Regions from separate parts of the Homo sapiens genome. Here region 2 is linked to region 1. A link means that fine-mapping ties the variant in region 1 to the expression of a gene that starts in the linked region. Tissue or cell type: whole blood. Region 1 holds a variant in brackets; the other region holds the start of a gene. All regions are shown on one strand. Distances are between the middles of the regions.

Region 1 (5,260 bases):
TTAAACTAAGGTCCAGCTTTATCGCTCCACAATTTTCTTGGACTGACTTACAACTGCCCTGGAAAAATGCACATTTCTTGAAAACAGCCTGGTAGAGTTCAACTTTGTAAAAACAGCCCAGGACAACTAGGAAACCCTTCTGAGGGAAGTGGTCCGGCCTCTCTTATTAGGAAAAATACAAAAGTGCCAATTAATTCCACGATGGAGCATAAGTTTTCCAAGTTTTGAAATGTAGACTATGTTTTGCTGCATATGCTTGGCTTTGAACCTAAAATGAGCACATAAGGTAAAGAAATGTGTCCGTACTGTCTGTGCCACGCTTTCGGCTTGAATAAAGAATTGTGTTATTGTGTTGTACCAGATAAAGCTGGTTATCAAACATGATTTTCCCATTTGCACTTTAGAAACCATGACAGTTTAAATACAGTTAAAACTTCTCTTTCCATCATACAAAGAGCATCTGTGTAAGTTCATCTTCACAAGGACCTAAGAGAAGCGGAGTATAAGGAGTTTATTCCCCCAATTTTTCAAAACCTTTCCTTCCGTTGTCTCCCCTGAATGACTGGCAGTCACTTTGATCTTAAAATTAAAAGCAAGGTCTTTTTATTTGCATCCAGTCGGGCATGAGGAAGATAAGCTGAAACAAATGAACTGGACAAAAATCCCTAAACAGAAACCTCATGCTGCGATGAAAGATGGTGAATTATCATCTGTATTTCAAGGAATTGATCTTAATGATTACTAAGTGGATACCGAGAAATGTGAAGCTGATGCTGTGTCTCTGTGGGTCTGTTCAGGCACATTAAGATTCACGGAGGCCGACGGCTGAGTACAATAAGGAGCGCTGATGGGCAATTGATTTTAAATCTTTGGTTTAAACTGTTAGGTTTAAACTATAAAATGCAGGACAGATTTCACTAAACCGGTGCTGACCCTTGCGTAGTGTGAATGCTGACACATTTCTACTAAACATCCCTCCTCAAAATGGAGAGGAAAAGAAAATCAATGACTGGACATTTGTTCCACCCGAACATTTAAATAGTTTAGCCTGGCTCATTTAAATAGTTTAGCCTGGAATAATTCACAGGGTGCGGATGAAAACCCTCAAGGCTGAATTAACTAAGGAGAGGACTGGCAGCCCTGGCCGTGAGTTAAATCCTCACCAAATGCCTTCATTTATCCCAAGTAAGGAAATGGGTAGATGGAAATACATGAGAAATGGAGGAGAAAATAAATATTTTTGCTACACTCTCAAGGTCTAGTACTCCAATCAAAGCTGTTCAAACACTTCTTCACTTTTCTGATTATTAACTCATAACTGAGCATTCAATTCTATCTTCAATCTAATTGTCCAAAAGGCTTCACCAGGAAAAGAAAATCCAACGCCATATTATATCTCAAAGCAACACAACTAAACTCATTTTATTCTGGTCTCTTTGACTATGAGTCTTTTTTTACTGGAAGCATAACACTAACTTTGTTGGTGAAAAAATAAAGGACACTAGCATCCAGTGTTTACCTGCATGCCAGGCAATGTTTGGGGTGTGTAAAGCCACATTCTCCTATTATTCAACAAGCTAAAATATTCTTTATTATTACTATTATTATACTTTAAGTTTTAGGGTACATGTGCACAACGTGCAGGTTTGTTACATATGTATACATGTGCCATGTTGGTGTGCTGCACCCAGTAACTCATCATTTAGCATTAGGTATATCTCCTAATGCTATCCCTCCCCCCTCCCCCCACCCCACAACAGGCCCCGGTGTGTGATGTTCCCCTTCCTGTGTCCATGTGATCTCATTGTTCAATTCCCACCTATGAGTGAGAACATGCAGTGTTTGGTTTTTTGTCCTTGTGATAGTTTGCTGAGAATGATGGTTTCCAGTTTCATCCATGTCCCTACAAAGGACATAGACTTATCATTTTTTATGGCTGCATAGTATTCCATGGTGTACATGTGCCACATTTTCTTAAACCAGTCTATCATTGTTGGACATATGGCTTGGTTCCAAGTCTTTGCTATTGTGAATAGTGCCAAAATAAACATATGTGTGCATATGTCTTTACAGCAGCATGATTTATAATCCTTTGGGTATATACCCAGTAATGGGATGACTGGGTCAAATGGTATTTCTAGTTCTAGATCCCTGAGGAATCGCCACACTGACTTCCACAATGGTTGAACTAGTTTACAGTCCCACCAACAGGGTAAAAGTGTTCCTATTTCTCCACATCCTCTCCAGCACCTGTTGTTTCCTGACTTTTTAATGATCACCATTCTAACTGGTGTGAGATGGTATCTGTGGTTTTGATTTGTATTTCTCTGATAGCCAGTGATGATGAGCATTTTTTTGTGTGTTTTTTGGCTGCATAAATGTCTTCTTTTGAGAAGTGTCTGTTCATACCTTCGCCCACTTTTTCATGGGGTTGTTTGATTTTTCTTGTAAATTTGTTTGAGTTCATTGTAGATTCTGGATATTAGCCCTTTGTCACAT[G/A]AGTGGGTTGCAAAAATTTTCTCCCATTCTGTAGGCTGCCTGTTCACTCTGATGGTGGTTTCTTTTATTATTATTATTATTATTATTATTATTATTATACTTTAAGTTTTAGGGTACATGTGCACATTGTGCAGGTTAGTTACATATGCATACATGTGCCATGCTGGTGTACTGCACCCACTAACTCGTCATCTAGCATTAGGTATATCTCCCAATGCTATCCCTCCCCCCTCCCCCCACCCCACCACAGTCCCCAGAGTGTGATATTCCCCTTCCTGTGTCCATGGGATCTCATTGTTCAATTCCCACCTATGAGTGAGAATATGCGGTGTTTGGTTGTTTGTTCTTGCGATAGTTTACTGAGAATGATGATTTCCAATTTCATCCATGTCCCTACAAAGGACATGAACTCATCATTTTTTATGGCTGCATAGTATTCCATGGTGTATATGTGCCACATTTTCTTAATCCAGTCTATCATTGTTGGACATTTGGCTTGGTTCCAAGTCTTTGCTATTGTGAATAATGCCACAATAAACATACGTGTGCATGTGTCTTTATAGCAGCAAGATTTATAGTCCTTTGGGTATATACCCAGTAATGGAATGGCTGGGTCAAATGGTATTTCTAGTTCTAGATCCCTGAGGAATCGCCACACTGACTTCCACAATGGTTGAACTAGTTGACAGTCCCACCAACAGTGTAAAAGTGTTCCTATTTCTCCACATCCTCTCCAGCACCTGTTGTTTCCTGACTTTTTAATGATTGCCTGGTGTGAGATGGTATCTCATTGTGGTTTTGATTTGCATTTCTCTGATGGCCAGTGATAATGAGCATTTTTTCATGTGTCTTTTGGCTGCATAAATGTCTTCTTTTGAGAAGTGTCTGTTCATGTCCTTTGCCCACTTTTTTATGGGGTTGTTTTTTTCTTGTAAATTTGTTTGAGTTCATTGTAGATTCTGGGTATTAGCCCTTTGTCAGATGAGTAGGTTGCGAAAATTTTCTCCCATTTTGTAGGTTGCCTGTTCACTCTGATGGTAGTTTCTTTTGCTGTGCAGAAGCTCTTTAGTTTAATTAGATCCCATTTGTCAATTTTGTCTTTTGTTGCCATTGCTGTTGGTGTTTTGGACATGAAGTCCTTGCCCATGCCTATGTCCTGAATGGTGATGCCCAGGTTTTCTTCTAGGGTTTTTATGGTTTTAGGTCTAACGTTTAAGTCTTTAATCCATCTTGAATTGATTTTTGTATAAGGTGTAAGGAAGGGATCCAGTTTCAGCTTTCTACATATGGCTAGCCAGTTTTCCCAGCACCATTTATTAAATAGGGAATCCTTTCCCCATTGCTTGTTTTTCTCAGGTTTGTCAAAGATCAGATAGTTGTAGATATGCGGCGTTATTTCTGAGGGCTCTGTTCTGTTCCATTGATCTATATCTCTGTTTTGGTACCAGTACCATGCTGTTTTGGTTACTGTAGCCTTGTAATATAGTTTGAAGTCAGGTAGTGTGATGCCTCCAGCTTTGTTCTTTTGGCTTAGGATTGACTTGGTGATGCGGGCTCTTTTTTGGTTCCATATGAACTTTAAAGTAGTTTTTTCCAATTCTGTGAAGAAAGTCATTGGTAGCTTGATGGGGATGGCATTGAATCTGTAAATTACCTTGGGCAGTATGGCCATTTTCACAATATTGATTCTTCCTACCCATGAGCATGGAATGTTCTTCCATTTGTTTGTATCCTCTTTTATTTCCTTGATCAGTGGTTTGTATTTCTCCTTGAAGAGGTCCTTCACATCCCTTATAAGTTGGATTCCTAGGTATTTTATTGTCTTTGAAGCAATTGTGAATGGGAGTTCACTCATGATTTGGCTCTCTGTTCGTCTGTTATTGGTGTATAAGAATGCTTGTGATTTTTGTACATTGATTTTATATCCTGAGACTTTGCTGAAGTTGCTTATCAGCTTAAGGAGATTTTGGGCTGAGACAATGGGGTTTTCTAGATATACAATCATGTCGTCTGCAAACAGGGACAATTTGACTTCCTCTTTTCCTAACTGAATGCCCTTTATTTCCTTCTCCTGCCTGATTGCCCTGGCCAAAACTTCCAACACTATGTTGAATAGGAGTGGTGAGAGAGGGCATCCCTGTCTTGTGCCAGTTTTCAAAGGGAATGCTTCCAGTTTTTGTCCATTCAGTATGATATTGGCTGTGGGTTTGTCATAGATAGCTCTTATTATTTTCAGATACGTCCCATCAATAACTAATTTATTGAGGTTTTTTTAGCATGAAGGGTTGTTTAATTTTGTCAAAGGCCTTTTCTGCATCTATTGAGATAATCATGTGGTTTTTGCCTTTGGTTCTGTTTATATGCTGGATTACATTTATTGATTTTCGTATGTTGAACCAGCCTTGCATCCCAGGGATGAAGCCCACTTGATCATGGTGGATGAGCTTTTTGATGTGTTGCTGGATTCGGTTTGCCCATATTTTATTGAGGATTTTTGCATCAATGCTCATCAAGGATATTGGTCTAAAATTCTCTTTTTTTGTTGTGTCTCTGCCAGGCTTTGGTATCAGGATGATGCTGGCCTCCTAAAATGAGTTAGGGAGGAGTCCCTCTTTTTCTATTGATTGGAATAGTTTCAGAAGGAATGGTACCAGTTCCTCCTTGTACCTCTGGTAGAATTCGGCTGTGAATCCATCTGGTCCTGGACTTTTTTTGGTTGGTAAGCTATTAATTATTGCCTCAATTTCACAGCCTGTTATTG
Region 2 (5,260 bases), 480 kb before region 1:
CCACCACGTTGCAAAGCTGCGCTGAGGCACTGTGGGAAACAGGCAGGAGGTGAGGAGGCTCATCGGGGAATGGCAGCTTACCAGCACTGCTCACTCGCAGCCCTGCTTGCAACAGCAGAGTGAGACGTGCTGGAAACCACGCTGGAGTTAACGCACTTGTCGCTGCGAGCCTCTTCTTTAAAGCCCCTCTGTGATGAGAAACAAAGGCTTTCTCGCCTAGCCGTCGCCCTAGCATCATCTATTATGCATCGTCTTATGCAAAATAAATAAAATACAGAAAACAGCAAGTATCTGTGAAAACAGCATTTTCATAAATTATACAAAAAAGAACCAATTGGAGGAACTTCAAGAAAAAGGTTTGCCAAAATTTCGATCGTAACTTTCAAATTAGGGTCTAAATGAAGTGTTCAAAGACAGTTTTCAGTTTTGTTTCCCCACTCCACCAACATCAGAAGAACATTTAACAGACACGTTACTTTCCGGCCACCATACCTGCCCTTGGAGTGAAACAAGGGTTCATGTATACGAGTCTCCCAGACAGCACGGTTGCTCCGTGTGATGATGGAGCTATTGGGGCCATTAATAAATGCTGACCACCTTGTGGGGGCTGTGTGTGTGTGTGAAGCTCTTCTGAAGCACCTTCCTTCGGTGACTCCACCCCCTGATGGGTTTTCTGCAGATACAGAAATAGGGCAACTCTGGATTAGTGCAGCACATTGTGTGAAGCTCAGAAGTTTCACAGGCAGAGTCCTAGAGCTGTGTTTCTCGATATAGTTTAAGCACTCAAATATCTCGGGTATTGCAGAGAGGAAGTGAGAGAGCTATGTGCCTTCTCAACCCTCGCTGGGAATTATCAGCAGAGCTGAGCTGTGCTGTCATGGGAACAGGGTTGTTGAAGCCAGCCCTGAAGAGGGATGTTGGTTTGATTGTGGTCCTCAGTCTGAGTTGGACTAGAAGGTTCAACATTCTAAAAGGAAAACGCAGAAGCCCTGTCTTTCTGAGGCTTGTCTGCAACATACGCTCATTCCTTCCAAATTATTTGCTGGAAAAAATTTAATAAATAATCATAGAGTAATTAACATGTTCCAGTTCCTGTCTATACTGGTTGATACTGATTCAACGAGTATGAATGAACTTATGAGGTGGGTGACGTTGTTATCCCCAGTTTACAGATGAGGAAACTGAGGCACGGTTTAACTTACCCGAGGTCATAGCAGTAGAGTTAAGATTTGAAATCAAATGTCTTACTCTCTCTCATCAATGAAAACTGAGCTACGATCTATCAGCTCAGCACATAACAACACAGGATCATCCTAATTATTTCCAATGTCCCCCAGAGTGATTCTTTTTTCTTATGATAAAAATTATCTGGAAATTTCTAGGCACATAAGCAGCTGAAAAGGTTGCATGTGAGGCAATGAATAGCAGAAATATTTGTGTGCCATTTTTATATCAACATGTTAATGTGTGCTAATGAATTTTAGAGTGGATTTTTTTAAAAACATGACTATTGTAATTAAAAGCTTATGTGATTTAAATACAAGATGCAATGATGATTACCAGATTCTATTCCTCTTTATATTTTACATAAGACTTCCAGGGTTCCATAAGTATAATCTTGAAACATAGGACATTCCTGGAAAAAAAAATTGCTTAAAACTATTTCAGTGTGCAATCCACCTCTTTGTAAATGTTACTTTCTTCCATCCAAATATTACATTTGGCAACAAAACTCTCCGCTGAGAGCTTTCTCTTCCTTTTGTGTCATTGTTCCCTAAATAAAGCAACACATGAAATTCCTGACGGCAAAAATCAGACTCAGATCCCAAAACCTCTGTCTTTATGCAAGATTTATCTTTTGCATTGGAAACGGCCAAGGAATATGAAGAGGGGAAAGAAGAGGCAAACAGACAAGCATGCAGGCTCTGAGGAATAAATGCCCCTCAGGACGCTGTCTCCTGGGGAATTGCAAACCTCAGTCCGTTTCTGAGGAAGTGCGGTCTCTGCATTTCTGAAAGAGGTATTTCCCCCCCTTGACACAAGGAGCATGGTAATGAATTGACTAGTTAAAAACTGTTGGTTGGAAAAACCCGTCCCTGTGTCTTTCTGAGCAGGGCGAGCTGAGCTGTCCGCGAGGCTGCGGCAGGAGGCCTCGTCCTCCCGGGCAGGGTCCCTCCTGGAGGCTCCCCCGGTCTCTCCCAGACGCACCCGCGCCGCGTCCTTGTTCCCCGGGAGCAGCCTCCCTCCAGCCGCCGGTCCTGGGAGCTTCACCGTCCAAACGGGAGCTGAGTTTGCAAGCGGCCAGGCGGCGGTGCGGCTGGTGCTGCTGCTGATGTCAGAGCCAGAAAGCAGTTGTGATTGGATCTAATTAGACGCTGCTGCAGCAAATAGACAAGCTCCCTGCGTGATTGGCTTCAAAGTGGCTGGTGCCAAACAACTAGCAGAGGCGCAAAAGTAGCCTCCCTGCGCTGGGAGCCCAGAGCAGGAGGCAGAGCCCGCGGGAAGCTCGGAGCACTCAGGACGCCGCGCGCCCTTCCCCGCCCTCCCTGACCAGGGAGCAGCTCGCTCCAGGCGCCCAGCCGAGGCCCCCAGCCCAGTGGGAGCAAGTCATAGAGAACAATTCGAGAGACAGAGAGACGGAGCGCGCTTTCCTGCTCAGTCCTGAAAAGTGAGCCGCTCCCGGGTTTGCAACCTCAAGCTTCGCAGCAGCGGCGGCGGCGGCTGCCGGGAAGGAGGCAGGTGCAGGTGCAGGAGGGAGGCGGCTCTGGGCTCCGCGCCTGGGTCTCGGCCATGGCCTCGGTCCTGGGGAGCGGCAGAGGGTCTGGAGGGCTGAGCAGTCAACTCAAATGCAAGTCCAAGAGGAGGAGGAGGCGGAGGTCCAAGCGGAAAGGTAAGGACCGCGTGGCGCGCCGGCCCCTGCCCCCCTTCACCCCCGGCTTCTCCACCCCGGCCTCTCATGGGGTCTCCGGGCTTGTCCGTTGTGAGCAGCTTCACTTTGGGGTGCTGGCGGGATGGCTGCTCCGTGCAGGGCGCTCGGGAGTTCAGATCCCGTGGAAATGTCTGGGGCCTCCTCTTGCCCAGAGGGGACAGTGAGCAGCCACGCTGCGACATGTTTGAGGGACCCGGACGAAGTGGGGCGAGGGCGGCGAGGAGCTCCCCGGGGACCCCGCGCGTCTCCGGGCCCCGCAGTCCCCAGTGGCCGGCCGGGCTGGCACTGCCTTCCACCCTCCGGAGGCCATCTCGTCTCCCAGTGCCAAAGGAATTACCCAAAAACGGGGGAACGAGCCCTCGCGCCAGCTACTCCCATCCAAACTGTCCCGGAGGAAGGGATAGGCGAAGCCCTGCGATCGCCTCTCCAAATTGGCTGGCAGTTTTTACTCAATGTGGTGCCCGTCGATTTGTAAACATTGGGTCGTAAAGAGAACACAGGGCTCGTCCTTGGAGAAATAAGCAGAAATGAATACAGGAAAACAGAAAGAAGCATCATATTTTGTTAGTGGTAGAAAAAAACCGCAAACCAGGAAAGCAGGAAAAGCAGCCGGCTGACAGCGGCCACTGACAAACTCAGCTGTGCCTTGTTACTGATATTCCTGGGGCTGGGCCGCGCTGAAGTTAGTCAATGCTACAGCAAGGGAGGGCTTTCACACTGGGGATTTTGCAAAATTAGCAATCGCTCCAATATGAGAGCAATGCCCCCAGTGCCATCGTAGCCTGTGTGCATGCCAGGAAGAATTAAAAGATTCTTCTCATGCCGACCCTTCTCTCCTAGAGGAACCTGTGTTATTGTCAGTTCCTAGTGAGCCTGCAGGAGAAAGTTCAGTTCTAATCATGATTTGAAATGTGCTGATTTTTTTTAAGTGAGGTAGAAGTATAAAGAACGGTTGGAAAAACACAGCTAGAATTGATCAGCTTTGCCAGTTGTTTGAAAGCAGGAGGCAACGTTAGGTGTGTTTGGGGTTGTCCATCTTTCCTGAAGAATTTTCATCTTTGCATTGGCCTAAGATAAGTTTCTACCAGACCGTTTCCTGTGTGCCCTCGAACCGTCACCAGGTCCTTTATTGCCTCTTCCAATAATAGAAATTATCCAGACAGTCAGCAGGCATAAATGTCAATAGCAAACAGTCATTCATTATGACCGAACGTCAGGACCACTGGGAGGGATTGGCCCCCACAACTTCCTCAAAAGGTTTTGGAGCCTTTGGTTTCAGAAGGGAGGTGATGTTGTGGTTCTCATTTACCTCTCAGCTGCTAAGTGTGCGCTTGCGATTCACTTTGTTGTTTGAAATTATCATTTTGAAACAGACCTGTTAGTGTCCTCCAAAGATAATGCCAACACAAAGTGGCATTGATATTGAGAAAGTCACCGGATTGAATAATGAATATGACTTTTAAAAGAGGAAAAAGGAAGCATCATCTTTACACTTGAAATGTTCACATTTCCCAATATTTTTTGATTAGTCTATTTAAATATTTAGAGTTGAAGAATGTGGAGTAATAGTTCGCAATAATGCATTTTATAAATATAAACAGGAGGAAAGTGTTGCCTTTCTCCAAATTCACTTGCCTTGCCAGGAAGCGTCAGTCATGCTAGCTTAGAAAGTATTCAATTTAGGGGGAAAAAGGAAATCTGGGGAAAGACTTCATTTGCTATAAACTTAACTTTAGCAATTCAAAATAAAACTCCTATAGCAAATATTTCCATACCTTGGTTATTTTGAATATGTCAAGTCCCTTAATTTTCATAGCCAAAAATTGAAGCGGGAAAGGGCATTCAGGTTTTGTACACTGATTTCTGTTACGAAGAGATTTCTGGCGTGCGGGAGAATTTCCCAGGGCACCTGCCGGCAGCTATCTTGATAGGAAAGTCAAATCAAACGGCTAAAGATTCAATTTTTGGGGAAACGTTAACCATGTAGATGTAACTGATCAAATTAAAAGGTAAAGTAACCAGCTAAGAGACACATTAAATAATTATTTGCATTTTCCTGGGAATTGATTACTTCATCTATGATACCTAGTTATTACAGATGCTGATATTTTTTATTTTATAAAAACAATGGTGAGTTTAAATTATGTTCTAATTGTCATGAATCTTAACAACCATAAATGAATAGAATAACCTCAATTTTAAGCTTATCTGATATTAAAACTCTATACTTGCCACAATTTAAAATCCACGTGTGTATGAGAGACTGTTAAGGAATTTAGTGTGGCTCTATTAGGTGCTAACTGAAGACACTGACAGAAGCACAAGGTAAGG

The links. PIP is the estimated chance that this variant, and not a neighbour inherited with it, causes the effect.
Region 2: ADARB2 starts here. The variant in region 1 is fine-mapped to the expression of ADARB2 in whole blood (TOPMed, PIP above 0.99). The same link has a PIP of 0.9 or more in spleen.

What each region holds. Positions count from the first base shown.
Region 1 is chr10:1,259,625-1,264,884 of GRCh38, reverse strand. All of the region lies in intron 4 of ADARB2 (adenosine deaminase RNA specific B2 (inactive)), which reads left to right. Among named protein-coding and RNA genes, the nearest start is that of LINC00200, 100 kb to the right of the region's middle. The variant G/A (reference allele first, on the strand shown) is at 2,500.
Region 2 is chr10:1,734,681-1,739,940 of GRCh38, reverse strand. ADARB2 (adenosine deaminase RNA specific B2 (inactive)) reads left to right here and starts at 2,416. Exons shown (of 10, transcript NM_018702.4): 1 at 2,416-2,890. The coding sequence starts at 2,791. RefSeq lists a silencer at 2,467-2,526 and an enhancer at 2,488-3,084.